Regions from separate parts of the Homo sapiens genome. Here all the other regions are linked to region 2. The links come from fine-mapping of genetic effects on gene expression. A gene starts in region 2. Each other region holds a variant in brackets. All regions are shown on one strand. Distances are between the middles of the regions. Region 1 has its middle 26 kb from the start of LINC02897. Region 2 holds the start of ZNF124 (zinc finger protein 124). Region 3 has its middle 15 kb from the start of LINC02897.

Region 1 (10,538 bases), 34 kb after region 2:
TGAGCTTAAGCTGGATCTATGGAGCACTGATCCCATTGTCTACTTCTGTGAGCTAGTGCTCCTCCATCTAGTTTCTACCATCTAGAGACGAATCTTATCAATACTTGGGTAAACCAAAGACATAAGTCAGGTAAGGGAATCCTAGACATAGCCCGACTCTTGCCTTTTTCCTCTTCTCACTTTAAATCTTGTTGGCTCAGAGAGTTACCCTCAGATGGAGTCTCTCAGGAGTAATTAGAACATTGTACTTCTAGAGAAGCTGGTGGAACAGGGTAGGGTTCCCAGTTCAAAGCTTCTGTCAAAAACTTCCAGTCTGTGTGTAGTAAATAAATCTAGAAACGATCCTAGAGCTCTGGATGGATCATTAAGAGAGGGCAGGATTTCTGTAGATCAGAATACCAGGACACATGTTCATCCGTCACCTTCCGGGGTCAAATTCTCGGTTAAGCCTGTGTGGTAGGGCTGTAGAGCAGTGTGTGCCTGGGAAAGCCTCTGATCACACATTTCCTCAGGGATTTTTTAGGCCTGATGTCCCTTTGAATTTACTTTAACAATCCTTTTGTAATTTTATTTTTTACATCAATTGTAACTTAGTATTATTATATATATAGGCATTTGGGTGTGTCTTGAAGGCATGTCCTGGTTTCAAACTGATTTGTGGTATATTATTGAATTAGGCCCATTTACTGGAATTATAAACTGCTATCCAACTACACAAAGAGCTGAGGATTCTGGGGAGGTCAGGATGGAGATGAAATAGAAGTGAGGAGAAAATAGCTCTCTCTCTCACATGCAGATTCTTTATGGATAAAATGCATAATTACCTAAAATTTAAAATACTCAAAAAATTATCTAATCAGTATGTAATGGAAATTATAGAGCAAAGAACAAAACAAACACCAAAATAATTTTCTTTTTTCTACATAAAAATTAAATAATTTACATAATGAAATATTCCATGATCCCAGTGTAAAATGCCAATAGAATATATGTAAAAAAAAAAAAAGACAATACCTGTATTAGATTTAAAATCTTCTACAATACATAAGATGAATTGAAATTTTTAGAGTAGAAGAAAGTTTAAAATTAGGTAAATGATATGAGCCAGGTGAAGAATAGGATCATTAAGCATTTAATATACCTTGTCTTAGATTCTGTGTAAGAAAATGAAAAGTAAAAACAATGGCATGGTGATTTCATCAAACTGAAAAAATAGAAGCATTTCTCCAGAGAGAATGCTATTAAAGGTTGGTGAATATCAATCTTCTGAGGACTCGGCCTGGGAGAGTGAAGAGCTACAGCCTTTTCTGAGTTCAAGTGGGGAAGATATAAATATATATTCATTTTGCTACTCTTTTTAATATACAAACATATATGAATGATTACACCCTAATAATATTTTCTGATTTACAGAAATGCATGACTGTCATAAGACAGCCAAAAGACATCAGATGTCTTATATGAAATACAAAATTTGTCAGTAATCAGCCTTAAAGAAAACTGGGTTTACCATTTTCAGTATATTGTTCAAATTCCTTTTCTACAACCACCACAGGTTCTGTTATTAACATGGTGTGTCTAAAGTTGTCACTGCTGGTCATCCAGAAGAATCTGAGAAGCAGCAAGTCTTTGTTTTCACTCCCAGACCTGTTTTCTTTGCTGAATAGGGTCAGGAGACCCCCAGGTCAAGCTTCATCTCATCTATAGATAGGCTGAGTTACCTTTGGTCCAAAAAAGGGCTGGTCCTATCTTTCTCCCAGAAGGAGCTCTGGACTTCTCCAGCCAGGGCTGGACCCTGGCACAAGTCAGGGTGGCTGAGATTCCCAGCCCTCAGCAGGGAACCCAGGCCACCTGGGAGTCCATGGTGTAGAAGTTCTGCACTGCAGCACAGAGGCCCCCAGAGCTGGCAAGCTAAGAGAGCTGCTCCCAGGTCAGCAGAGAATGGACCTACTGTGCTTGTGTCTGAACTAGGTCTTGATAAATGGCCTCAGACTTACCATAGAGGTCACCAGGCTTTTCAGAACTGGCAGCAGGTGGTCTCCTGGGGACTGAGATATGGGCTGCTTGCTGCACCCAGTGCGGACCCTTGGGGATCCACTATGGCAGGCATCACAGGTCTTCTCAGTTTTGCTGCTGTAGGGCCCCCAGCTCATGAACACAGAACAGTCACCTCTCCCATGGCTGAGCATACCCACCAGTAGTGGCCCAGAGTTTCCCCATGGAGAGGCTCCCAGAGGCATATGACAGCCCCTCTGCCATTGCCACAGTAATAGTTCTATCCCTGCTGCCTTTGGTCTGGGGAAGAAACAAAGAACCTGAGAGCTACACCCAAGCTTAACAGCATACCACCACAGCCACCATACCGAGAGACTAGTCTTTTCTCCCTGTGAGCCTTCATCCCATTGCTCCCCAACAAGCAGAACCCCAAGCTTATGCCAGCAGTGCAGGTGCCCCACCCACCAGCTGAACACCCCCAGTAACTATGGTTCTGCATTTCTTGGAGGTGGAGCCCCCAGGAGCAAACAAAAGCCTTGCTACCGCTGTCTGCAGTGGAACTGCCCTTGCTATCCTCAGACAAATGAATGAACAAATACCATAAGTGCCTTATCCACACCTACAACAAACTGCAGTTGACCCAAGGAGAGGAGACCAGTTCATCTCCCACAGGTTCCACCCACTCCCCCTGCTTGTCACCAGATAGGAAACCCTGGGCTTGGTCCCACAGCACAGACCCTCCGTTCTGGGCTGATTGCACTTAGCAATTGCTAACCGGCTCCTCTTGGGTGGAGCCCCCAGGAGACAAGCAAAAGACCTTTGGCCACAACCACTATTAAGGTCCCTTCCTCTGCTGCCTCCAAGCCAGGGGAGGAACATAAGCCCTGAGAGTGCCCCAGAGCTGTGGTGGGCAGCCCAAGAGTGCCAAGCCACAATTTATAGCCAGCATTCAAGTGGGAGAGAAGCCCACACTTTCAGAACATTGAGAGGGAGCATGACTGCAACTGTCAGAAAATATAGGGGAGCCACATGACCAAGCAAGAGCCTACCAACTAACCAGTATGCCTAAGCACCACCTACTGGATCACATCCCGAAGTTCCAACACCAAAAACACCTTGCTAGCATTCCCCTCTGTGAGACCAAAGACAAGTCAGCTACAAATGAAGACCCTGCACAAAGCCTTGGCTCTGCGAAGACATCCAGAAAAAAAAGTGTACTGACTGTACTCAATCTACACTGCAGTTACAGGAACACCCACCTGCAGACATGAGAAAGAACCAATGAAAGAACTCCAGTAACTCAAATGGCCAGAGTGTTGTATGTCCTCCAGATGACCACACCAGTTTTTCAACAAGGGTTCTTACTCAGGCTGAGCTGGCTGGAATGACAAATGGAATTTAGAATATGGATAGGAATTAAGATCATCAAGATTCAGGAAAATGCAAAACCCAATCCAAAAAAACTAAGAATCACTGGAGCTGAAAGACAAGATAACTGATATAAAAAAGAGCCTGATGGTTCTGACAGAGCAGAAAAACACACTACAAGAATTTCATAATGCAGTCACAAGTATTAACAGCAGAATAGACCAAGTGGAGGAAAGACTCTCAGAACATGAAGACTGGCTCTCTGAAATAAGACAGTCAGAAAAATTAAAAAGAATAAAAAATAACAAAACTTCTGAGCAATATGGTATTTTGTAAAGTGGCCAAATCTATGAATTATTGGCATCCCTGAAAGGGATGGGAAGAAAGCAAACAAGTTGGAAAACATTCTAGGATATCATCCACGAAAACTTCCCCAACCTTGGTAGAGAGGCCAGCAGTCACATTCAGGGAAACCAGAGAACCCCTGCAAGATTCTACACAATAAAATCATCCCCAAGACACACAATAATCAGATTTTCCATGGTCAAAATAAAAGAAAGACTGTTAAAGGCAGCTATACAGGGCAGGTCACCTACAAAGGTCACCCCATCAGGCTAACAGCAGACCTCTCAGCTGAAACCCTATAAGCCAGAAAAGACTCAGGGCCTATATTCAACATTCTTAAAGAAAAAAATCTTCAACCAAGAATTTCATACCCAGCCAAACTAAGCTTCCTAAGTGAAAGGGAAATAAGATCCTTTTCAGACAAGCAAATGCTGAGGGAGTTCATTACCACCAGACCTGCCTTATGAGAGATCTTGAAAGGAGCACTAAATATAGAAAGAAAAATCTGCTACCAGCCAATACAAAAACACACTTAAATACACAGATCAGTGACACTATAAAGCAACCACACAAACAAGTCAGCATAATAACCAGCTAACAACATGACAGGATCAAATCCACACATATTAATACTAATCTTGAATGTAAACAGGCTAAATGCCCTGCTTAAAAGGCGCACAATGGCAAGCTCCATAAGAAGGCAAGACCTGATGGTATGTTGCCTTCAAGAGACCCATGCAGTGACCTAGGATCAAAATAAAGAGATGGAGAAAAATCTGCCAAGCAAATGGAAAACAGAAAAGCAGGGGTTACAATCCTAGTTTCTGACAAAACAGATTTAAACCAATAAAGATTTAAAACAACAAGGGTATTACATAGTGGTGTGAACCGTGAAAATTTGAGATGGGTCTCAGTAATTTAGAAAGTTTATTTTGCTAAGGTTGAGGACACGCATCCATGACACAACCCCAGGAGGTCCTGACAACATGTGCCCAGGGTGATCGGAGCACAGCTTGGTTTTACACATTTTAGGGAGACATGAGACATCAATTAACATATGTAAGATGAACATCGGTTCAGTCCAGAAAGGCAGGACAACTCAAAGCAAAAGCAGGACAACTTGAAGTCGGGAGGGAGCTTTCAGGTCATCGGTAGATAAGAGACAATGGTTGCATTCTTTTGAGTTTCTGACTAGCCTCTCCAAAATGAGGCAGTCAGATATGCATTGATCTCAGTGAGCAGAGGGTTAACTTTGAGTAGAACGGAAGGCAGGTTTGCCCTAAGCAGTTCCCAGCTTGACATTTCCAGTTATTTGTTACTGTCAATCATGTTCACACTCAGCTTTAAACAATTTGCCAATTACACTTTCAATTTTCCTACAGATGTACTGGTTCATGAAGATGTGCTTATGGGTTTCTACTCTAGTAAGTTTTGGGTCTATGTATGTACCTTTCTTTCTCTGCACTCTTGGGGCAAGGAATTGCCATGTGATTGATCGGAGAATTGTTCATTTTAAATTAGTCCAGAATTTTTATGTTTTATTTCTTCTAAAACAAACGAAAACGGGATACGTGTAGAACATGTGAGTTTGTTACATGGGTATACATGTGCCGCGGTGGTTTGCTGCACCTATTGACCTGTCCTCTAAGTTCCCTCCCCTCACCCCCCAACCCCCAACAGCCCCTGGTGTGTGTTGTTCCCCCTCTGTTTCCATGTGTTCTCAATGTTCAGCTCTCACTTATGAGTGAGAACGTGCAGTGTTTAGTTTTCTGTTCCTGTGTTTGCTGAGGATGATGACTTCCAGCTTCATCCATGTCCCTGCAAAGCACATGATCTCATTCCTTTTTATGTCTACATAGTGTTCTATGGTATATATATACACATATATATATACACCACATTTTCTTTATCCAGTCTATCATTGATGGGCATTTGGGTTGGTTCCATGTCTTTGCTGTTGTAAATAATGTTGCAATAAACATACGTGTGCACGTGTCTTTATAGTAGAATGATTTATATTCCTTTGGGTATATACCCAGTAATGGGATTGCTGAGTCAAATGGTATTTCTGGTTCTAGATCCTTGAAGAATCGCCACACTGTCTTCCACAATGGTTGAACTAATTTACATTCCCACCAACAGTGTAAAAGCGTTCCTATTTCCCCACAGCCTCACCAACATCTATTGTTTCCTGACTTTTTAATAATCACCATTCTGACTGGCATGAGATGGTATCTCATTGTTTTGATTTGCATTTCTCTGATGATCAGTGATGTTGAGCTTTTGTTCATGTGTTTGTTAGATGCATAAATGTCTTCTTTTGAGAAGTGTCTATTCATATCCCTTGCCCACTTTTTGATGAGTTTTTTGTTTTTTCTTGTAAATATATTTAAGTTCCTTGTAAATTCTGGATATTAGACCTTTGTCAGATGGATAGATTCCAGAAATTTTCTCCCATTTTGTAGGTTGCCTGTTCACTCTGAGGACAGTTTCTTTTGCTGTGCATAAGCTCTTTAGTTTAATTAGATCCAATTTGTCAGTTTTTGCTTTTGTTGCAATTGCTGTCGGCATTTTTGCCATGAAGTTGCCCACGCCTATGTCCTGAGTGATATTCCCTAGGTTTTCTTTCTTTTTTTTTTTTTTTTTTTTTTTGTATTTTTAGTAGAGACAGGGTTTCGCTATGTTGGCCAGGCTGATCTCGAATGCCTAACCTCATGATCCACCCACCTTGGCCTCCCAAACTGCTGGGATTACAGGCACGAGCCACTGCACCTGGCCTCCCTAGGTTTTCTCCTAGGGTTTTTATGGTTTTGGATTTTACATTTAAATCTTCAACCCATCTTGAGTTAATTTTGGTATAAGGAAGCAGTCCAGTTTCCATTTTCTGCATATGGCTGGCTAGTTTTCCTAGCACCATTTACTGAATCAGAGATCCTTTCTTCATTGCTTGTTTTTGTCAGGTTTGTCGAGGATCAGATGGTTTTAGATGTGTGGTGGTATTTCTGAGGTCTCTGTTCTGCTCCGTTGGTCTATATATCTGTTTTGGTACCAGTAGCATGCTATTTTGGCTGCTGTAGCCTTGTAGTATAGTTTGAAGTCAGGTAGCATGATGCCTCCAGCTTTGTTCTTTTTGCTTAGGATTGTCTTGGGTATATTGGGTCTTCTTTGACTCCATATAATTTTTTTTTTTTTTTGAGATGGGTCTGACTCTGTTGCCCAGGCTAGAGTGCGGTGGCATGATCTTGGCTTACTGCAACTTCCAACTCCTGGGATCAAGTGATTCTCTTGCCTCAGCCTCCCCAGCAGCAAGGATTATAGGTGCACACCACCACGCCTGGCTAATTTTTGTATTTTTAGTAGAGATGGAATTTCACCATGTTGGCCAAGCTGGTCTCAAGCTCCTGACCTCAAGTGATATACCCGCCTTGGCCTCCTAAAGTGCTGGGATTACAAGCATGAGCCACTGTGCCTGGCCAATTTCACATGAAATTTTAAATAGTTTTTGCTAATTCTGTGAAGAATGTCAATGGTAGTTTGATGGGAATAGCACTGAATCTGTAAATTACTTTGGGCAGTGTGGCCATTTTTGTGATACTGATTATTCCTATCCATGAAGATGGAATTTTTTCCATTTGTTTGTGTCCTCTCTTACTTCCTTGAGC[A/G]GTGGTTTGTAGTTCTCCTTGAAGAGGTCCTTTACATCCCTTGTTAGCTGTACTCCTAGGTATTTTATTCTCTTTGTAGTGATTGTGAATGGGAGTTCATTCATGATTTGACTCTCTGCTTGCCTATTGGTGTAACCAAATGCTTGTGATTTTTGCACAGGGATTTTGTATCCTGAGACTTTGCTGAAGTTGCTTATCAGTTCAAAACGTTTTGGGGCTGAGATGATGGGGTTTTTCAAATATAAAATTATGTCATCTACAAACAGACTTCCTCTCTTCCTATTTTAATACCCTTTTATTTCTCTTGCCTGATTGTCCTGGCCAGAACTTAGGAGTGGTGAGAGAGGTCATCCTTGTCTTATACCAGTTTCCAAAGGGAATACTTCCAGCTTTTGACTATTTAGTATGATATTGGCTGTGGGGTTGTCATAAATAGCTCTTATTATTTTGAGATATGTTCCATCAATACCTCGTTGATTGAGAGTTTTTAACATGAGAGGATGTTGAATTTTATTGAAGGCCTTTACTTCATATATTGAGAGAATCATGTGGTGTTTGTCTTTGGTTCTCTTTATCTGATGGATTATGTTTATTGATTTGCATGTTAAACCAGCCATGCATCCCAGTAATGAAGCTAACTTGATCGTGGTGAATAAGTTTTTTGATGTACTGCTGGATTCAGTTTGCCAGTATTTTCTTGAGGATTTTTGCATTGACGTTCATCAGGGTTATTGGCCTGAAGTCTTCTTTTTTTGTTGTGTCTCTGCCAGGTTTTGGTATCAGGATGATGCTAGCCTTATAAAACGAGTTAGGGAGGAGTCCTTCCTTTTCAATTGTTTGGAATAGTTTCAGAAGGAATGGTATCTGCTCCTCTTTGTATTTCTGGTAAAATTCTGCTGTGAATCCATCTGGTCCTGGGCTTTTTTTGATTGGTAGGCTATTAATTACTGCCTCAATTTCAGAGCTTGTTATTGGTCTACTTAGGGATGTGACGTCTTCCTGGGTTAGTCTTGGTAGGAGTCCAAGAATTTATCCATTTCTTCTAGATTTTCTAGTTTATTTGCATTGAGTGTTTATAGTATTCTCTGATGGTAGTTTTTATTTCTGTGGGGTCAGTGGTGATAACTCCCTTTATCATTTTTTATTGTATCTTTTTGATTCTTCTCTCTCTTATTAGTCTAGCTAGTGGTCTATTTTGTTAATTATTTCAAATAACCAGCTCCTGGGTTTGTTGATTTTTTTGGAGGGTTTTTTGTGTCTCTGTCTTCTTCAGTTCTTATCTTAGTTCTTTCTTGTCTTCTGCTAGCTTTTGGAATAGTTTGCTCTTGCTTCTAGCTTTCTGATGTAGGCATTTAGTACTATGATTTTTCCTCTTAACATTGTTTTAGCTGTGTCCCAGAGATTCTGGTACATTGTCTCTTTGTTCTCATTGGTTTCAAAGAACTTCTTGATTTCTGCTTTAATTTTATTATTTACCTAGCAGTCATTCAGGAGCAGGTTTTTTGATTTCCATGAAATCGTGTGGTTTGGAGTGAGTTTCTTAATCCTGAGTTCTAATTTGATTGCACTGTGGTCCGAGAGACTATTATGATTTCAGTTCATTTGCATTTGCTAAGAAGTGTCTTACTTCCAATTATGTGGTTGATTTGAGAATAAGTGCCATGTGGCACTGAGAAGAATGTATATTCTATTGATTTGTGGTAGAGAGTTCTTTAGACATCTACTAGGTCACTTGATCCAGAGCTGAGTTCAAGTCCTGGATATCCTTGCTAATTTTCTGTCTCATTGATCTAATACTGACAGTGGGGTGTTAAAATCTCATACTATTATTACACAGGAGTGTAATTCCCTTTGTAGGTCTGTAAGAACTTGTTTTATGCATCTGGGTGCTCCTGTATTGGGTGCATATATATTTAGAATAGTTAGCTCTTCCTGTTGAATAGTTCCCTTTACCATTATGCAGTGCCCTTTTTTGTCTTTTTTGATCTTTGTTGGTTTCAAGTCTGTTTTGTCAGAGACTAGGATTGCAATCCCTGCCTTTTTTTTGCTTTACATTTGCTTGGTAAATATTCCTTCATCCCTTTATATTGAACCTATGTGTGTCTTTGCACATAAGATAGGTCTCCTGAATACAGCACACTGATGAGTCTTGACTCGTTATCCAATTTGCCAGTCCAAGTCTTTTAATTGGGGCTTTTAGCCCATTTACATTTAAGGTTATTATTATTATGTGTGAATTTGATCCTGTTGTCGTGATGCTATTTTGTTATTTTGCCCATTAGTTGATGCAGTTTCTTCATAGTGTCATTGGTCTTTATATTTTGGTGTGTTTTTGCAGTGGCTGGTACCAGTTTTTTCTTTCCGTATTTAGTGCTTCTTTCAGGAGCTCTTGCAGCACGGGCCTGGTAGTAACGAAATCCTTCAGCATTTGTCTGGAAAGGATTTTATTTCTCCTTCACTTATGAAACTTAGTTTGGCTGAATATGAAATTCTGAGTTGAAAATTCTTTCCTTTAAGAATGTTGAGGCTGGGCGCCGTGGCTCATGCCTATAATCCCAGCACTTTAGGAGGCCGAGGTGGGTGGGTCACCTGAGGTCAGGAGTTTGAGGCCAGCCTGACTAACATGATGAAACCCTGTCTCTACTAAACACAAAAAACTTGCCGGGCATGGTGGTGCATGCCTGTAATCCCCGCTACTTGGGAGGCTGAGGTGGGAGAATCGCTTGAACCTGGGAGGTGGAGGTTGCAGTGAGCTGAGATCGCACCACTGCACCCCAGCCTGGGTGACAGAGTGAGACTCCATCTCAAAAAAAAAAAAAAAAAAGAATATTGAATATTGATTGAATATTGGCTCCCTATCTCTTCTGGCTTGTAGTTTCTGCTGAGATGTCTACCGTTAGTCTGATGGGCTTCCCTTTGTAGGTGACCTGGCCATTCTATCTGGCTGCCCTTAACAGTATTTCCTTCATTTTGACCTTGGAGAATTTGCTGATTATGTGTCTTGGGGTTGTTCTTCTTGAGGAGTATCTTAATGGTGTTCTCTGTATTTCCTGAATTTGCATGTTGGCCTGTCTTGCTAGGTTGGGGAAGTTCTCCTGGCTAATATCCTGAAGTGTGTTTTCCAGTTTGTTTCCATTCTCCCTGTCTCCTGCTGGTACTCCAGTCAAT
Region 2 (10,538 bases):
CAGGAAACAGATAATGCAGATCAAGTTCATCCTTATGTTGGCTTTCACCTCGGACTATTCTAAATATTGTAAGTCCCAGGTATTTACATAATTATGAATAATGATGGGAAAAATTTACCATTGAATGAACAAGAAACGAAAGACTGATTATAAAGTCTTGAGCTTAATCGACACCTCTGAAGAAAAGAGGAGTGTACTAGAATGAAAAACCATTTACACAAATCCACAAGCAATTTTACATGCAATTAATGTGTTCTTTGAAAAAAAAGTATCCCGTGTTTTGTTTTATTAATAAAAATGTCATTGTTATTATACACAAGTAACAGCCAGCATTTTAAAACCTATGACTGGTCATTGATAACATAAAATGATCATGAGAATTTCATGTTAAAAGTCAAAGAGGAGATGGCTAATGCATGCTGGGCTTAATACCTAGGTGATGGGTTGATAGGTGCGTGGGCCCAGACTCCCCTTTTCTCTGTGATTGGAGTGGATGCCAAGAGTGAGGAGAAGCCAGACAGTGGGAGCGAGCACTTCCAAGCCTGTGGGGGTGGGGGAACCTTCCTGAGCCCTCCAGAGTGCAGAGATGCCTGGGTCTGCAGCCATGGCGGCTGTGCCCAGGAGGATGGGCCTCCTGCCTGCTCCAGCTCCCAAGAGCACAGGGATGCCCAGCTCACCTATGGGTCAACCCCCAAGAACATTTATAATTTCTCTAGAATGGCATAACCCTTCCAAAAGCTGACGGGGACCTTGGGAATCTTCTTCCAGAGGGTCCTGGGTCAGGGATATTGGCCTGGCTGTGAGACAGACAACCTCCTACCCTCCCTGTGCCTCCTGGGCCAAGACGTGGAAGCCTCATCAGGATGCACTGCCACTGGCAACAGGCCAAGAACGGGGTCTGCTTGGGGGGCGCAGGTGGTTCGGGGGTCCCAGGAGAATTGAGAACTTCCTGCAGACAAGATGCCTCTTTTTCCTCATTTTTGGTCCAACTGATACACTGGATAGTGAGATAAACCTTACATTTTAATTTTTATGTATTTTTTCATTATATGCAAAATGTATACTTAAACAGACAGTGGATTTGAAGGGAAAAGTATTTGAGATTCATTCTTTCAAGTGTCATTTAGTCCTATATACATAGGTTTATATATATTATATATATAGTGTATATATATAGCATATATAGTAATGTATATATGTAGTGTATAGTATATATGTAGTGTATATATACTATATATGTGTATATATAGTATATATGTATATATGCATACATATGTATATAGTATACATGCATACATATGTATATAGTATAGATACATATATAAATATATATGCTATATGCTATATATAGGACTATATATATATACACATACACACACGCGTATATATATAGTCCTATATACATAGTCCTATATACAGATTTGCCCTATGTGTAACAACTACGTAGATAAAAAAGTTATGAAATTGTTTTTGGTTTTACAATGCTATATTAAAAACATTGAAATTCACCAATTGAACAATCTATGCAAGGGTATTATGGTTTTTTGTTATTGTTGTTTAAGTCCTGAAATACAGAGATAAGAGCTGAGTGAGCAGCCACTGGTGGAGAAACAGTCTTCACGGGGCCAGTATTTTTCTGCCCCGTCTCATTTGGCTGCGGATCAACACATGTCATTTAGTACAAACAAGCAAACAAAAATAGCAATATGCTTGTGTGCCTACCCCAGATGCTTTATGTGCAATAATGAAATGAGGAAGGGGAAGATAAGAGAATGGAGAAAAGGATACTGTACCAGCCAGAATGTGGAGTCAGAATGTGGTGTCAGAATGTGGAGTCAGAATGTGATGAAATCACATTGTGGGTTTCTACATGAGAATGTCTGCTGGAGTTGTAGGAAGAGGTCCTGGGTAAAGGAGCAGGTGTGTTCTTAGAAGGCCCTCCTGTCTGCTGCTGGAACACATCACCTGTTTATTCGTCCTCCATTTCCCGCTTTGCAGGTGTGTCAGTTTCACTGAGTGACCGTCCGTAAAATCCAAATCTGATTTGCTTCATGGCCAAACCCTGCCATTCACCATAGGCTTCCACTCCTTCATTCAGTGATGTGTACTTCTTCCCCTTCAACTGCGCCCCAGAACCATCCTACCCTCCACCTTCAAATTCACAGAATTGTTGTTCTGTCTTGACTCAAACTTTTTTCCTGCCACAGCAGAGCACTGAAAGTCTCTTAAGTTACAGCTTCACAACAGAAGTCTAAAGTCTGCGCAGAACTAGCACATCTGCAGCCGTAGGAGCAGCAGAATGACCAGGCAGCAGAGCTTTATTCCATGTTTTCATCTCCATTCCTACAACAGCAGCGGCAGCAGCAACAACTGCTACTACTTCTAATTGTGGTAAAAATACTTAGAATAATAATGCATAATGACAATTGTAGTTGACATTTTTGGTTTATATATGATTATTTGTAATGTTCTACAATTTACCTTTAGTAATATACACATAACTTTTGCATAAACATCAGGACCCTAAAACACCACACCTGATGATTGAATCTCACCTATGGACCTAAGGTCTTCACATGCTGGTGCAGGCCCTCTCACCACTCCATCTCCAAACAGAGGATATGGTCCACCTTCTGAGTCAATATAGTAGCCCTGACACTCACATGATCTATTTGAGGTCTTGGAAAACAAGCTTGCCTTGTTAAAAATCAAAGGATGGGCCGGGCACGGTGGCTCACGCCTGTAATCCCAGCACTTTGGGAGGCCGAGGCGGGCTGATCACGAGGTCAGGAGATGGAGACCATCCTGACTAACACGATGAAACCCCATCTCTACTAAAAATACAAAAAAATTAGCCGGGCATGGTGGCCGGCGCCTGTAGTCCCAGCTACTCGGGAGGCTGAGGCAGGAGAATGGCGTGAACCCGGGAGGCGGAGCTTGCAGTGAGCCGAGATCACACCACTGCACTCCAGCCTGGATGACACAGCGAGACTCCATCTTAAAAAAAAAAAAAAAAAAAAAAATCAAAGAATGGCTTCAAATTGTAGTCAGCTGTTTCGTTAAATTGCAGCAGGAAGAAATTTTTCTCAGCAGGTCTATTTTCATGTCACTTGCTTTCAGAGTAAGAGGTTATTTCAGACACAGTGGTTTGATTTAGTCTTTGTTGAAAATCATAAATAGCCTACAAACAACAAAAAGGGATGAATAGGATTTGCGTTCATGTGGAGTGCGTCATCTGTGCTTTTAAATTTATCCTATGAAAAGAAATAAAAAATATGTAATATCGAACATTGGTTTCCTAAATTAGCAAATCGACCATTTCCTCAAGTTATTCCACGTTCTTCCAAGATGTGTCAGAAGCATTCTCTGGAGGCAGTTGTTCCAAATGGTGAAGAGTACTAGATGGATCCCAATCTCACAGGATTCTTGCTTCTATTGCAGAAGAGTTACTTTCCAGGACTTCAAAGGTTTAGAGAAGCTGCTTGATTCGTGTGGCTTGCAGAGGTGCATGGGCTTTGGAGTCACGAAAAGTTAATCCTGGTCCCAGCCCAGCCTCTTAGTAGCTGTGAGGCTTTGCACAACTTCCTTGTCTTGGAAAGTTATATAAACCTCATCTGCAAGAAAAGGCATGATACTGATTGCAAAAATGGCAGCAACTCTTCATCCCTTCCTGTATTTATGCCCTTTGTGATGTGCTTTTATAGCTGCTTTCATTGAGAGGCAGAATCTGTTTCCCAAACCTTGAATCTCACTGGCCTTATTTGCTCTGGCAGTAGAAAGCTGTGAATATGACCATGTGCCAGTTTGGGGCCGAGGCACAAAAGCTCTTGAATGCTTCTGCTTTTTATTTCACAACCCTGTCATCTCCATAATAACAAGTCCATGTTAGCCTGCTAGAGGATGAGATACTATAGGGAGGAAAACCAAAGTGCCACAGTTGACAGGCAGCTCACCCTCAGAAGCAGCATTGCCTAGTCAACCAGCAGCTGACCACACGTGCCTGAAAGGGCCCAGCAGAGACCAGAAGAATGGCTCACTTGAGCCCAGCCTAGAAGGTGGACCAGCTCAATCTAATACGTTTTGGGGAATTTTACTGTGAAGCAATAGGTAATACGTACACCTAGTGCAGACAGGATGCCAGGATTCAATGACATGTTGATTGCAATTTACCAGGCAAACACAAGGCACCCTGTATGTACTGATTTCCTTTTCCCTTTATGTAAAGTTGGATTTCTGGTTAGACGGTGTTGAGCCATACAGAAGTGCACGTAGACATGCATGTGATTTGTGCTTAAACTCACACACTTAAATTCCACACCACAGGAGGAAACAGAAAACCACAGCCTGACCATTAGGGCCAAAGCCAAATTGCAAAATGAGAAGTTTGTCTTTAATGTATTCCCTCTACATCTAAAGTCCTGAGGTTAAGGCTGTGGACAAATCTGAAGACATGGGTTTTCTTCTCCTGGGGCCCCTCATCTTTTTTTCACTGTCTTATCTATAGAAGAGGCTGGGCCCCTGGCAAGAGCAGGTGGGAAATAGTAGACTCCCTCTAGATACTTCTTTATTGCAGCCCACTTCTCTCTCTGGGCACTGTCTCTGCCACCCTTGGGCCTGAGGAGAGATGTTAGCAGAAGGAGGGCATTCCCTCACCTCTAGCAGAAAAGAGGGGTTCGGGCCCTTCACTCCCTGAGGTCAGGGGAACCAGAGCCCTCAAAACTGCACTTCAGTGTGACAGTCATTGCCCACAGGGGTCTACTTAGCACCTAGAATGTGGCTGGTCTGAATCGGTACATGCTGGAAGTTTAAAACGCAGAGTGACTTTGAAAGATTTAGTACCAAAAAACAGAACAACAAAAAATACTTCATTAATATTATATTTATCATATATTTAAATTATAATATTTTGTATATATTGAGTTAAATAAAGTATTGCAATCAATTTTACCTGTTTATTCCTCGTTTCTGTTGCTACTAGAAATTTTAAAATGACACCTGTGGCTCACATGTGATTTCTGTGGAAATCGCAGCCTTGGAGGATTGCTTCCCTTTTCAAAACTCGGGCTCCTCAGACTGCTTCCTCAGAAGACCAGAGGCCATGAAGGTTAATAAGTCTGAAATTTTAAAAGAATTATTATTATATTGTTTCCTATTTTAAATATCATATATATTATTCACAAATGAATGTAACATTGTATACAAGGTTAAGTGTATATAAATGAATGTCCCCTAGGCAAGGCTGGGTCCCAACCCAGAGAGGAAACCCTCTTGGAGAAGAGCTGTAGCCAGAACGCTGCCTCATTCAGACACGCGCGGGAGCTGTCACCTGTCACTAAGAGTCTGAGGGGGCGGGGCCTGAGGCCCTACCCAATCAGGGGCACCGGGGCGGGGACTGCCTAATCCGGCGCTCCGCTAGAAAACCCGAGGCGGCTTCCGGGTGTGCCCGGCCTTTGTCTCTCGTGCCCGCACGTGCGTGTCTCGGTCAGTAGCCCTGCGCTTCTCCTTCACTCTCGGCGGTTCAGGAGGCTCTGCCGCAGCCGGGGCCCTCCTGTGACCTGCATGTACTGGGGGATTCGCAGGGAGGATGTCGGGACACCCCGGAAGCTGGGAAATGGTGAGTTGCGCCGCCGGGGGTCTGGAGAAGGGAAGGGGCTGTGGCGGCCCCGGGCCCCGGGCTCCCAGCGGTCGGCTCCCGAGGGCGGACCCGGGTCCCTGCTGGCGCGGCGCGGCGCGGCCCTCGGTCCTTTCTGGCGCCCGGCAGAGCTGGGCGGGCAGCGGCACCCCGGGCTCCGGTCCCGTCTCTGCACCGCGACTTCCGTCCTGCCCGAAGCAGCTTCCCTCCCCGGCCCGCGCCCGCAGCCCCGCGGCTCCTCGGGATCCTGCAGTGAGACCCGAGGCGCCTCAGGGGAGAGGCCCAGCGCGGTGTGCGGGCTCGCGCCTGCGAGGAGCTGTGGCCACTGGCGTTTCCAGTCCCTCCTTAATCCTGTTAAAAATTAAACTGAGGTTTAATTAAAGCGTTACAGAGTTTGAGCAAACAGCGATTCATGAGTAGGGGAGCACCCAGCCACGGTTTTTGGTTTGTGGGCCACCGGACGGTCTTGATGGAAAGGCTTCTGTAAAGTGTGTAAGGAAACAAACCAAATTTATTTATTTTTTATTTTAATGATCGGGTGGGGCGGGGGGGGGGTCTCCCTGTGTTGCCCAGGCTGGTCTTGAACTTCTGGTCTCAACCTCCCGAAGTGCTGGGATTACCCCGCCCAGCCCAAAGCAACCCCAATTTAATAACTGATTGGTTATAATTATGTAGTTCTGTTATTCGGATTATTTAGGTGGATGGTTCCTGGTTATGTAATCAGAGGTAAATTGCTGATTTGGGGTTAAGTTTTCTTTCCCTTCAAGTTAATTACAAGAAAGGCATGAAGTACCTTTAGGTTTTCTTGGTGAGGAACTCAGGGCACCATCATCACTTAAGGGAGGAGACCACCCCTCATATTGTCTTATGCCCAATTTCTGCCTCCAAAGAAAGAAGAAGTAAAAACTAAAAGGCAGAAATGAAATCCACAGGCAGACAGCCCGGCGCCGCGTCCTGGGCCTGGTTACAGATTGACCCTTGACCTGACCGGTTGTGTTATCTATAGATTCCAGACATTGTATGGAAAAGCACTGTGAAAATCCCTGTCCTGTTCTGTTCCGTTCTGATTGCCGGTGCATGCAGCCCCCAGTTATGTACCCCCTGCTTGGTCAATCGATCACGACCCTCTCACGTGGACCCCCTTAGAGTTGTAAGCCCTTAAAAGGGACAGGAATTGCTCACTTGGGGAGCTGGGTTTTTGGAGACGTGAGTCTTGCCAAAGCTTCCGGCAGAATGAAGCCCTTCCTTCTTTAACTCGGTGTCTGAGGGGTTTTGTCTGCAGCTTGCCCTGCTACAACTTCAGTCTAATTTCTTCCTATTTAATTATTTCCACAAGGGTACTGGTTTCCCCTGCATTTCCCAAATGTAAGGCAAGCAGGGTCTCAAATCCATGACCGTATTCCCCAGCCTAACTTCTAGAACTTGCAGTAAAATTCTAAATTTCCAGTTTCTTCCTCATACTCTCAAACTCCAACTTCACCTCTCCAATTTACAACATTATTAATTATTTGTTCTTTATTGTGCATTTGAACCAGATGCAGTAATGTAATTGTTTATCATGTTTTCACTGAGCAGTGAGGAGCTGTTTCTGAACATTCCTTGTGAAAACAGAGAATAATCACCTGATCTAGTCCACTATAAAAAATTCTTTGTACCTCTCCTCCTTTTGTCTTCCCTAGGCACACTCACAAACGTCTTTGGATGGAGGTTTCCCTTTGGAACCTTCACGTGGTGTTGTGTCCTCAGCCACCCTCCTGTCTTTTCTGGGTCCTGGGTTCAAAACTGTTTGAGGATGACCTAATGTGCCCACACTGGCCCTGTCTCTTGGAGTGTCATAAATAGTGAATGTCAGCTGTTGGGTCCTCTTCTCCCAGAAGACAAGGTGAGGTTTAGGGGTGGAGCCTCTCAGAGGAGCAGCTGGATGGCATGAATCCCCTGGGACCGAGAGGAGTCTCCTGGGATACTCTTCTATACTCTTCCTCTAAAAAGCTAATCCACTAGGACTTAGATTTTTTTTTCTTCTCTTACCCCCGTTATCACTCCTTAGAGACAAAATGCTGGTCAGGCAGTCGGATACTGGTATTGAGGGAAGAAAGAATTTCTGCCCTCTGGATTGTCTCATGCTTGTGAAGGGAGAACAGCTATTCCAAAGTACAAGGAAACCCCGCCCCGCAGTGAGGCAGGAACCTGAAAAGCAAAATGCATTTGGGGCACAGTGGGGACACGGCACAGGTTTCTGGGGGAGGGTGGGCATTGAGTACTTCCCTGAGCAGGATGGGGTGGGAGGACACAGTGGGGACACTGGGAGAGACACTGGTGTCATCCAATCCAATGCTGGTATTTTGAGGGAGAGACAGAAATGATTCCTGCCCTCTGGATTCTTTCACACTTGTGAAGGGAGAAAAACAACCTTAAAGAACAAGAAAATTTCTTCCCAGGAAGATGACACAAAAACCTGCCAAGCAAACTGCACCTTAGGCACACAGTGGGCCACAGTGCATTGCGCTGGGAGGTTGGTCCTTGAGTACGTGGTCTCTCCAATGAGGAGACCGGGGACCAGGGAATCTCCTGCTTGAGAGATGGTCTTACTTGACATGTGAGTCAAACATATCTGTGTTCCAGTTAGCGCTGCTCCTCCCTGGGCTGTCCTCTTGCAAAGCTTTGTTCATTTATTGGTGCCTTAGGTAAACATAAAATGTATTTCATCAATAGAGCTTTAAAGATAAAATATTTACAAAGAGGCAAAGAAAGAAGTGGATATTTTAAATATATGTAGATATTTTAAATCCACTTTATATATATATTTAGTTTTTTAATTAAAAAAATTTTTAATGTTATATCAATACATTTGGGGTAGCAGGTGGTTTTTGGTTACAAGGATAAGCTCTCTAGTGGTGATTGCTGAGATTTTGGTCCTGTCACCTTATCAGTGTACGCTGTACCCAATATGCAGTCTCACCCCCTCCCACCCTTGCCCCCAAATCACCAAGGTCCATTATATCATTCTTATGCCTTTGTAACCTCATAGCTTAGCTCCCACTTATAAGTGAGAACATAGAATATTTGGTTTTCCATTCCTGAGTTACTTCACTTAGAATAATGCCTCCATTTCCATCCAAGTTGCTGCAAAGCCCATTATTTCATTCCTTTTTATGGCTGAGTAGTATTCCACCACATTTTCTTTATCCCCTCATTGGTTGATGGGCATTTTAGGTTTGTTTCATATTTTTGCAGTGGCAAATTGTGCTACTGTTAACATGCGTGTGCAAGTGTTTTTGTTTGTTTGTTTTTTAATTGAGACAGAGTCTCACTCTGTTACCCAGGCTGTAGTGCAGTGGCACGATCTTGGCTCACTACAACCTTCCGTCGCCTGGGTTCAAGGGATTCTCATGCCTTAGCCTCCCAAGTAGCTGGGACTACAGGCATGCACCATCACGCCCAGCTAAATTTTTTTTGTATTTTTAGTAGAGACAGGGTTTTGCCATGTTGGCCAGGCTGGTATCGAACTCCTGATGTCAGGTTATCCACCTGCCTCAGCCTCCCAAAGTGCTGGGATTGCAGGCATGAGCCACCACGCCCAGCCGTGTTTTTTTCATATAATGACTTCTTTTCCTTTGGGTACATACCCAGTAGTGGCATTGCTGGATTGAATGGTAGTTCTACTTTTAGTTCTTTAAGGAATCTTCATACTGTTTTCCATGGCGGTTGTACTAGTTGACACTCCCATCAGCAGTGTAGAAGTGTTCCCTGTTCACCACATCCACACCAGCATCCCAGCATCTATTGTTTTTTATTTTATGATTATGGCCATTCTTACAGGAGTAAGGTGGTATCTCATTATGGTTTTAATTTGCATTTCCCTGATAGTGATGTTGAGCATTTTTTCATATTTATTGGCTATTTGTATATCTTCTTTTGAGAACTATTCATGTCCTTTGCCTACTTTTTTGATGGAATTTTTTCTTGCTGATTTGAGTTTTTTGTGAATTCTGGATATTAGTCCTTTGTAGGATGCATAGTTGGTGAAGATTTTCTCCCACTCTGTGGGTTGTCTGTTTACTCTGCTGATTATTTCTTTTGTTGTGCAGAAGCTTTTTAATTTAATTAGGTGCCATTTGTTCATTTTTGTTTTTGTGCATTTGCTTTTGGGTTCTTGGTCATGAGTTCTTTGCCCAAGCCAATGTTTAGAAGAGTTTTTTTGATATATTTTATTTTCATTCCCCTGAGTGTATGTGGTAACTTTTTGAGGTCTCGTCTCTTCTTTTGGGTAGTTTCAAATGAAATTCTAGGGCTTTTAATCAGGAATGCTACCAGGGAAGAGAAATAGGAAAAATCTCTCTTCCTTTATGATTACAGAAAGTGAATACATTTCCACACACAAAAGTGTGGTACATAAATTGGTGAATTACAAAAATTAACCAAAACATCAGTTTGTTTCCTGCAGGATGAAGAATTTGTTAGAGTGGGTAAGTCTGTGCTGTTTTCTGTTGCCTGCATTTGGCACATTAATGCTAAATCTGTACAGCAACCTTGCCCGATCACTGTGGCCAGGATTTCCAATACTGTGTTGAATGGGAGTGATAAAAGCAGAGGTTCTCTACCGCTCTTTCCTGATCTTGGGAGAAAAGGGTTTTTTTGCTTGTTTGTTTTGGTATTTCAGCATTGATGGTGATGTTAGTGCTGGTTTTTCATACTGTAGTTTCCTTGTAGTCCTAGTTTATTGTGTATTTTTATCATGAGTGGGTCTTAATAATTTGCCAAATACTTTTCCTGCATCCGTTGCAATAGCTACGATATTTCAGTCATTTTGCAAATGTCATACATTACACTGATTGATTTTTCATATATTGAACCATTTTATTTTAGGGATAAATCTCACTTGGTTTTGGTGTATAATCCTTTTACT
Region 3 (10,538 bases), 45 kb after region 2:
GATGTTGTGATCATTTGGAGGAGAAGAGGTACTCTGGCCTTTTGGGTTTTCAGCATTTTTTCATTGATTCTTTCTCATCTTTGTGAGTTTGTCTAGCTTCAGTTTTGAGGCTGCTGGCTCTTGGATGGGGTTTTTCTGAGGGCCTTTTTTGTTGTTGTTGTTGACACTGTTGTCAGTTTCTGCTTGCTTGTTTTTCTTTAAGTAGTCAGGTCCCTCTTCTGTAGGGCTGCCTCAGTTTGCTGGGGGTTCACTTCAGGCGTATTCATCTGATTCACTCCCATGCCTGGAGATGCCACTCAAGGAGGCTAGAGAAGAGCAAAGATGGGTGCCTGCTCCTCCTTCTGGGACTTCTTACCTCAAGGGACACCAACCGGATGCCAGTAGCATCACTCCTGAATAGGGTGTCTGACAACCCCTGTTGGAGGGTCTCACCCAGTTGGGTGGCACAGGGAAAAGGACCCGTTTAATGAAAGACTTTGTCCCTTGGTGGAGAGGGTGTGCTTCACTGGGGGGAAACCCACTCACCTAGGCTGCCAAGATTCCTCAGAACTACCAGGAGGAGAGGCTAAGTCTGCTGGTCAGCAGAGACTGCGGCCACCCCTCCCCCTAGGGGCTCAGGCCTAGGGAGATCCAAATTCTGTCCCTGAGCATCTGGCTGGAGTTATTGGAGACCCTCCAGGGAAGCCCCACCCAATGAAGAAGGGATTAGGCCTGAAGAGGCACTCTGGCTGCAAACTGCCACAGCCGGTGTATTGGGCTGTAGGGACAGGTCTTGGGACCTAGCTGTACAGCCTCCCTGGCTAAAGCAGGGGAAAAGTGCAGCCTGGAGCTATAGAAATGGGTGCCAACCTCCTCCCGTCCAGGGAGCTTAGCACGTTAGGCAGTTGGAGTCCCAGTACTGGCTGCTGCCCCTCCCCAAGGAACTCAAATGGCTTAGACAGCAGGCAGCCACGGCCAGTGCTGGTTGCCCCTCCCCCTGGGAGTTGGGTAGGCTTAAGTAGATTCCAGCTGAAAGGCTGTAAGAATCTGGGCGTTCCAGGGTTGGGACGGCAGGCCTCGGTGGCGTGGGTTTGCGAGTGGGATCTTCCAATCCGTGGGTTGCACAGCTCCATGGAAATAGCAGTTTCCCCAGCTGGGTAGCGCACTCACTCACTGCCTCCCTGGGCTGGAGGAGGAGGCTCCCCTTCCCCGCCTGGCTCTCAGGTGGGCCGCAGCACCACACTGTTCTTCCTTCTCTCCATGGGTCACACCATCCTTCTAGTCAATTTTGATGAGAGAACCTGGTTGCTGGTGAAGGATTCACATGCTTATTATGAGTTTTTTAGTTTGTTTGTTTTGTTTTGATTGTCGCCCAGGTTGGGGTGCAATGGCATAATCTCAGCTCACTGCAATCTCCACCTCCTGGGTTCAAGCGATTCTCCTGCCTCAGCCTCCCGAGTAGCTGGGATTACAGGCATACGCCACCACGCCCAGCTAATTTTTCGTATCTTTAGTAGAGATAGGTTTCACCATGTTGGTCAGGCTGGTCTTGAACTCCTGACCTCATGATCTGCCCACCTCGGCCTCCCAAAGTGCTGGGATTACAGGCGTGAGCCACCGCGCTTGGCCCCCACTTTGTTTCAAATGAAAAAATACTCAGTGTTTGAAGAGTCCAGCAAAATCACTCAAACTCTGCTTTTATGTATGTTGGAGGGAATAAAATTGCAAGGCACTTACATTTCATACCTCAACAGGGAAAGCAGAAGTATTCCTTTCATACAATAAACAAGTCATGTAATTATTTACATGATAACATATTATTTCATAAAGAAATTATTTCGATGTTAACACATCTAAAAATGCCAAGTCCCCACCCACAGATTTGCCATTAAACTTGGACATCCAGGTAACAGGAAACAGAGTCATCCACTGTCACAGAATCTCCGCTCGGCACAAAGGTGGAACTGATGCTTTAGTGAGCTTCTGTTAGTGAGTATACTTTCTTGTGAAAACGTATTTTTCTGCAGCCATAATGGAAGACAGTGTCCCTATTTTTCCCTGGTAGCATTCCCAAAGCTAAGCCCTGGAATTCGGGTTGAAACCACCCCCAGAAAAGAACAAACCTGTGAAACTTACTACACTCCCTCTGGGCAAGAAAAAAGCCATTTAAGAATTTTTAACAAATGAAATATATGACTAGATATCTAATATTTTTCTGATATACACCTCTTTCTTGGCCTTTTGAAAATATTATCTCTCAAGCTGTACTGATAAAATGTATTTTTCAATCAGCGAAAAACTGAAGTTAAAATAAGTGAACAAGTATTTTCAAGGTGACAAACGAGTAGCAGTACTGACGAGCACGGACATGGCTGACTCAAGGGTCAAGTCAGACCATCCCATCTCCTGAATCCTCCCACCCCATCCTGCTCGGGGAAGTACTCAATGTCCACCCTCCCTCTCATCTCCTGAATCCTCCCACCCCATCCTGCTGGGGGAAGTACTCAATGTCCACCCTCCCTCTCATCTCCTGAATCCTCCCACCCCATCCTGCTCGGGGAAGTACTCAATGTCCACCCTCCCTCTCATCTCCTGAATCCTCCCACCCCATCCTGCTGGGGGAAGTACTCAATGTCCACCCTCCCTCTCATCTCCTGAATCCTCCCACCCCATCCTGCTCGGGGAAGTACTCAATGTCCACCCTCCCTCTCATCTCCTGAATCCTCCCACCCCATCCTGCTGGGGGAAGTACTCAATGTCCACCCTCCCTCTCATCTCCTGAATCCTCCCACCCCATCCTGCTCGGGGAAGTACTCAATGTCCACCCTCCCTCTCATCTCCTGAATCCTCCCACCCCATCCTGCTCGGGGAAGTACTCAATGTCCACCCTCCCTCTCATCTCCTGAATCCTCCCACCCCATCCTGCTGGGGGAAGTACTCAATGCCCACCCTCCCTCTCATCTCCTGAATCCTCCCACCCCATCCTGCTGGGGGAAGTACTCAATGTCCACCCTCCCTCTCATCTCCTGAATCCTCCCACCCCATCCTGCTGGGGGAAGTACTCAATGCCCACCCTCCCTCTCATCTCCTGAATCCTCCCACCCCATCCTGCTGGGGGAAGTACTCAATGTCCACCCTCCCTCTCATCTCCTGAATCCTCCCACCCCATCCTGCTGGGGGAAGTACTCAATGTCCACCCTCCCTCTCATCTCCTGAATCCTCCCACCCCATCCTGCTGGGGGAAGTACTCAATGCCCACCCTCCCTCTCATCTCCTGAATCCTCCCACCCCATCCTGCTGGGGGAAGTACTCAATGTCCACCCTCCCTCTCATCTCCTGAATCCTCCCACCCCATCCTGCTGGGGGAAGTACTCAATGTCCACCCTCCCTCTCATCTCCTGATCCTCCCACCCCATCCTGCTCGGGGAAGTACTCAATGTCCACCCTCCCTCTCATCTCCTGAATCCTCCCACCCCATCCTGCTGGGGGAAGTACTCAATGTCCACCCTCCCTCTCATCTCCTGAATCCTCCCACCCCATCCTGCTGGGGGAAGTACTCAATGCCCACCCTCCCCCAGAAAACTGCGCCGTGTCCCCACTGTGCCCCAAATGCATTTTGCTTTTCAGGTTCCTGCCTCACTGCGGGGCGGGGTTTCCTTGTACTTTGGAATAGCTGTTCTCCCTTCACAAGCATGAGACAATCCAGAGGGCAGAAATTCTTTCTTCCCTCAATACCAGTATCCGACTGCCTGACCAGCATTTTGTCTCTAAGGAGTGATAACGGGGGTAAGAGAAAAAAAAAAATCTAAGTCCTAGTGGATTAGCTTTTTAGAGGAAGAGTATAGAAGAGTATCCCAGGAGACTCCTCTCGGTCCCAGGGGATTCATGCCATCCAGCTGCTCCTCTGAGAGGCTCCACCCCTAAACCTCACCTTGTCTTCTGGGAGAAGAGGACCCAACAGCTGACATTCACTATTTATGACACTCCAAGAGACAGGGCCAGTGTGGGCACATTAGGTCATCCTCAAACAGTTTTGAACCCAGGACCCAGAAAAGACAGGAGGGTGGCTGAGGACACAACACCACGTGAAGGTTCCAAAGGGAAACCTCCATCCAAAGACGTTTGTGAGTGTGCCTA[G/A]GGAAGACAAAAGGAGGAGAGGTACAAAGAATTTTTTATAGTGGACTAGATCAGGTGATTATTCTCTGTTTTCACAAGGAATGTTCAGAAACAGCTCCTCACTGCTCAGTGAAAACATGATAAACAATTACAATACTGCATCTGGTTCAAATGCACAATAAAGAACAAATAATAATGTTGTAAATTGGAAAGGGGAAGTTGGAGTTTGAGAGTACGAGGAAGAAACTGGAAATTCAGAATTTTACTGCAAGTTCTAGAAGAGTTAGGCTGGGGAATACGGTCATGGATTTGAGACCCTGCTTGCCTTACATTTGGAAAATGCAGGGGAAACCAGTACCCTTGTGGAAATAATTAAATAGGAAGAAATTAGACTGAAGTTGTAGCAGGACAAGCTGCAGACAAAACCCCTCAGACACCGAGTTAAAGAAGGAAGGGCTTCATTCTGCCGGAAGCTTTGGCAAGACTCACGTCTCCAAAAAACCGAGCTCCCCAAGTGAGCAATTCCTGTCTCTTTTAAGGGCTTACAGCTCTAAGGGGGTCCGCGTGAGAGGGTCGTGATCGATTGAGCAAGCAGGGGGTACGTGACTGGGGGCTGCATGCACCGGCAATCAGAACGGAACAGAACAGGACAGGGATTTTCACAGTGCTTTTCCATACAATGTCTGGAATCTATAGATAACACAACCGGTCAGGTCAAGGGTCAATCTGTAACCAGGCCCAGGACGCGGCGCCGGGCTGTCTGCCTGTGGATTTCATTTCTGCCTTTTAGTTTTTACTTCTTCTTTCTTTGGAGGCAGAAATTGGGCATAAGACAATATGAGGGGTGGTCTCCTCCCTTAAGTGATGATGGTGCCCTGAGTTCCTCACCAAGAAAACCTAAAGGTACTTCATGCCTTTCTTGTAATTAACTTGAAGGGAAAGAAAACTTAACCCCAAATCAGCAATTTACCTCTGATTACATAACCAGGAACCATCCACCTAAATAATCCGAATAACAGAACTACATAATTATAACCAATCAGTTATTAAATTGGGGTTGCTTTGGGCTGGGCGGGGTAATCCCAGCACTTCGGGAGGTTGAGACCAGAAGTTCAAGACCAGCCTGGGCAACACAGGGAGACCCCCCCCCCGCCCCACCCGATCATTAAAATAAAAAATAAATAAATTTGGTTTGTTTCCTTACACACTTTACAGAAGCCTTTCCATCAAGACCGTCCGGTGGCCCACAAACCAAAAACCGTGGCTGGGTGCTCCCCTACTCATGAATCGCTGTTTGCTCAAACTCTGTAACGCTTTAATTAAACCTCAGTTTAATTTTTAACAGGATTAAGGAGGGACTGGAAACGCCAGTGGCCACAGCTCCTCGCAGGCGCGAGCCCGCACACCGCGCTGGGCCTCTCCCCTGAGGCGCCTCGGGTCTCACTGCAGGATCCCGAGGAGCCGCGGGGCTGCGGGCGCGGGCCGGGGAGGGAAGCTGCTTCGGGCAGGACGGAAGTCGCGGTGCAGAGACGGGACCGGAGCCCGGGGTGCCGCTGCCCGCCCAGCTCTGCCGGGCGCCAGAAAGGACCGAGGGCCGCGCCGCGCCGCGCCAGCAGGGACCCGGGTCCGCCCTCGGGAGCCGACCGCTGGGAGCCCGGGGCCCGGGGCCGCCACAGCCCCTTCCCTTCTCCAGACCCCCGGCGGCGCAACTCACCATTTCCCAGCTTCCGGGGTGTCCCGACATCCTCCCTGCGAATCCCCCAGTACATGCAGGTCACAGGAGGGCCCCGGCTGCGGCAGAGCCTCCTGAACCGCCGAGAGTGAAGGAGAAGCGCAGGGCTACTGACCGAGACACGCACGTGCGGGCACGAGAGACAAAGGCCGGGCACACCCGGAAGCCGCCTCGGGTTTTCTAGCGGAGCGCCGGATTAGGCAGTCCCCGCCCCGGTGCCCCTGATTGGGTAGGGCCTCAGGCCCCGCCCCCTCAGACTCTTAGTGACAGGTGACAGCTCCCGCGCGTGTCTGAATGAGGCAGCGTTCTGGCTACAGCTCTTCTCCAAGAGGGTTTCCTCTCTGGGTTGGGACCCAGCCTTGCCTAGGGGACATTCATTTATATACACTTAACCTTGTATACAATGTTACATTCATTTGTGAATAATATATATGATATTTAAAATAGGGTACAATATAATAATAATTTTTGTATCTTTAGTAGAGACGGGTTTCACCATGTTGGTCAGGCTGGTCTCGAACTTCTGACCTCATGATCCGCCCACCTCAGCCTCCCAAAGTGCTGGAATTATAGGTGTGAGCCACTGTGCCTGGACTATTACATTTTCTAGAATTTTATATGAATACAATTGTACAATATTTACTTTTTTTCCCCAGTGAAAATAGCTTTTATTCAAATGTCCTTACTTTTATCTGGATTATTTTACTTGGACTAATTAATATGAGATCCAGCCACATTGCTGCATGTAGTTTAAATGGGTGAATTCTATGCTGTTTGAATCCTCTCTCAATAAAGTTGTTACCAAAAACTCAATGAGATACCACTGCATTCCCAGTAGGATGACTAAAATGAAATAAATAAACAGATGGCTGGGTGCGGTGGCGCCTTTAATCGGCGCCGGCGCCGATCACGAGGTCAGGAGTTGGAGACCAGCCTGGCGAATGTGGTGAAACCCCGTCTCTACTAAAAATGCAAAATTTAGCCGGGTGTGATGGCAGACGCCTGTAATCCCAGCTACTCAGGATGCTGAGGCAGGAGAATCCCTTGAAACGGGAAGGCAGAGGTTGCAGTCAGTGGAGATCTCCAGCCTGGGCGAAAGAGGAAACTCTGCCTCAAAAAAAAAAAAAAAAAAAAAAAAAAAAAAAAGACAAAAACAGGTGTCGGTGAAGATACGGAGAAATTGGAACCCTCACACCCTGCTGGTGGGATTGCATAATGGCGCAGCCACTCTGGAAAACAGTCTGGCAACCCCTCTAAAATTCAAACATAGAGGTACCATTTGACCCAAAAACTCCACCCCCAGGTACAGATACACAAGAGAAATTAAAACATCCACAAAAAAGCTAGTACACAAATGTTCACAGCAGCAGCATTCGTAACAGCCAATGTGTGAAAAAGTCTCCAGTGTCCGTCAGAGGATAAAATGTGGTCTATCCTTGCAATGAAATCTTATTCACCCATAAGAAGGAATGAAGGCCGGGCGCTGTGGCTCATGCCTGTAATCCCAGCACTTTGGGAGGCGTAGGCAGGTGGATCACTTGAGCCCAGGAGTTGCCAGCCTGGGAAACATGATGAGAGCTCGTCTGTACTAAAAATGCAAAAAAATAAAAAAATAGCCGGGCATGGCGGTGTGTGCCTGTAGTCCCAGCTATTGGGAGGCTGAGGTGGGAGGATCACCTGAGCCTGGGGAGGTCGAGGATGCAGTAAGCCATGATCACACCACTGCACTGCAGCCTGGGTGACAGAGCGAGACCCTGTCTCTAAAACAAAAGGAATGAAATGCTGATACATACTACAACATGAATGAACCTTGAAAGTATTTGGCTAAGTAAAAGAAGCCACATACACACACACACAAACCCCACATATTGCGTGATTTTATTTTTATATGAAATGTCCAGAATTGGCAAATAGAGACAGAAAGTAGATTAGTAGATTAGACAGAAAGTTGCATAGGCTGGGGGGAAAGGAGTTGGCTGCTACAGGATGCAGAATTTCTTTATGGGGTGATCATCTCAAATTGACTGTGATGATGGTTGGGCAACTCTGTGGATGTACTAAAAGCCACAGAATCAGAGCCGGGCGTGGTGGCTCACGCCTGTAATCCCAGCACTTTGGGAAGCCGCGGCGGGTAGATCACAAGGTCAGGAGTTTAAGACCATCCTGGCCAACATGGTGAAACGCTGTCTCTACTAAAAATACAAAATTAGCCACATGTGGTGGCCTGCACCTGTAATCCCAGCTACGCAGGAGACTTAGGCAGGAGAATCGCTTGAACCTGGGAGGTGGAGGTTGCAGTGAGCCAAGATCACACCTTTGCACTCCAGCCTGGGCGACAGAGCGAGACTCTGTCTCAAAAAAAAAAAAAGCCACAAAATCATTCATTTTAAATGGCTAAATTTTACGTGTGTGATCCCAATAAAGCTATTAACAAAAAATGGCTCACGTAGGCCGGGCGCAGTGGCTCACGCCTGTAATCCCAGCACTTTGGGAGGCCGAGGCGGGCGGATCATGAGGTCAGGAGATCAAGACCATCCTGGCTAACACGGTGAAACCCCGTCTCTACTAAAAATACAAAAAATTAGCCGGGCGTGGTGGCGGGTGCCTGTAGTCCCAGCTAAAAGCACATCACAAAGGGCATAAATACAGGAAGGGATGAAGAGTTGCTGCCATTTTTGCAATCAGTATCATGCCTTTTCTTGCAGATGAGGTTTATATAACTTTCCAAGACAAGGAAGTTGTGCAAAGCCTCACAGCTACTAAGAGGCTGGGCTGGGACTCAGGATTAACTTCGTGACTCCAAAGCCCATGCACCTCTGCAAGCCACACGAATCAAGCAGCTTCTCTAAACCTTTGAAGTCCTGGAAAGTAACTCTTCTGCAATAGAAGCAAGAATCCTGTGAGATTGGGATCCATCTAGTACTCTTCACCATTTGGAACAACTGCCTCCAGAGAATGCTTCTGACGCATCTTGGAAGAACTTGGAATAACCTGAGGAAATGGTCGATTTGCTAATTTAGGAAACCAATGTTCGATACGTGTGTGATCCCAATAAAGCTATTAACAAAAAACGGCTCACGTAGGCCGGGCGCAGTGGCTCACGCCTGTAATCCCAGCACTTTGGGAGGCCGAGGCGGGCAGATCACAAGGTCAGGAGATCGAGACCATCCTGGCTAACACGGTGAAACCCCATCTCTACTAAAAATACAAAAAGTAGCCGGGCGTGGTGGTGGATGCCTGCGGTCCCAGCTACTCAGGAGGCTGAGGCAGGAGAATGGCATGAACCCGGGAGGCGGAGATTGCAGTGAGCCGAGATCGCGCCACTGTACTCCAGCCTGCGTGACAGAGCGAGACTCCGTCTCAGAAAAAAAAAAAAAGAACATAATATGTGTATTGTGTCTCATGTACACTGTTGAAGAGGTAGCAGCCCATGATTGATGAAATAGTCCAGTGATCTTATGAGATACAAGTTTGTTTTCATGTTCTCTCTCTGACATTGTCTATGCTTAGTTATTGTGTTCATGCTTATTCCTTCATGGTCCAAGTTGGCTGTCCCACCTCCAGGCATCAAACCACATTCCAAACAGCAACCAGGAGGAAATAGTAAGCTGATAGGTCATGGGGAATTAGGTTGGAAGCCATTGCTTTTTAATTTACAGAAGTCCATTCTCCCCAGGCACTTCTTTCTAAGTCTCATTGATCAGAACTCAACCACGTGGCCACCATCAGCAGAAACATCTCTCTGTAGCACCGTGAAACACATGAGAACATAACTGGGGATGACCGTTGTTACTTGAACTATTTTGAAAGATCTGACATAAAGGTCATCGCCTTGTGCACTTCAATGGGTGTTACTGCAAAACTCCCAGGGCTAGGCATGGCGACATACACCCGAAATCTCAGCTATCTGGGAGGCTGAGGTGGGAGGATTGCTTGAGCCCACGAGTTTGAGGCTGAAGTGTGCCTGTGAATAGCTACTGCACTCCAGTGCCTAGGACACATAGGGAGACCTCACTTTTTTATGGCTGCATAGTATTCCATGGTAAAGAAATGTACCACATTTTCTTTATCCACTTCACTGTTGATGGGCATTTATCCACTTCACTGTTGGTGGGAATTTAGGTTGAATCCATGTCTTTGCTATTGAAGTCACACTTTTTAATCAAGTTATTTAACTTTCCTGTGTTCATTTGTGTTATATACCAGAACATTTTTATTTCTATGGTTTTAATGCCACCTAATATGATTATCAATGTGTCATTCTCCATAAATCATTGTGTTATACATGTTAAACGATTAGGTATTAAGTGTATAGGTATAAATCACTTAGAATAATGACTAACACATTGTATGAACTAAATAAGTACTGATTCATCTGATTCATCAAATTTCCATTATTCATACCATTCATTATTTATTAAGTGGTGTAGTATTTGTTCTTATCAACATTTGCTTTTCTGTCCTATCTAAATATTAATGAAACAGTGGATGTGGGCTCAGTGTGCTGTCTTGAAATAATCCAAAGTCAAATGGCATGCTTCACTGGTTTCCTTTAGATGCAATAACTCATTTGACTCACACAATAAAAATGAGTATTAAGTATATCAGCTATCCTTATATTTGTCATGCTACAACAGAGAAAACTCTGGGTCACTGGGCACCGTGGCTCACGCCTGTAATCCCAGCACTTTGGGAGGCCAAGGCAGGTGGA

What was found. PIP is the estimated chance that this variant, and not a neighbour inherited with it, causes the effect.
Region 1: its variant is the best candidate, but not a certain one, in a credible set for the expression of ZNF124 in visceral fat (GTEx, PIP 0.68).
Region 3: its variant is the best candidate, but not a certain one, in a credible set for the expression of ZNF124 in putamen (Braineac2, PIP 0.84).

Annotation. Positions count from the first base shown.
Region 1 is chr1:247,133,310-247,143,847 of GRCh38, reverse strand. It overlaps a transcript of ZNF124 not described here. Among named protein-coding and RNA genes, the nearest start is that of LINC02897, 26 kb to the right of the region's middle. The variant A/G (reference allele first, on the strand shown) is at 7,371.
Region 2 is chr1:247,166,924-247,177,461 of GRCh38, reverse strand. It overlaps ZNF124 (zinc finger protein 124), which reads left to right and starts at 5,442. Exons shown (of 4, transcript NM_001297568.2): 1 at 5,442-5,614. The coding sequence starts at 5,585. RefSeq lists a silencer at 1,681-1,975.
Region 3 is chr1:247,121,866-247,132,403 of GRCh38, reverse strand. It overlaps a transcript of ZNF124 not described here. Among named protein-coding and RNA genes, the nearest start is that of LINC02897, 15 kb to the right of the region's middle. The variant G/A (reference allele first, on the strand shown) is at 4,117.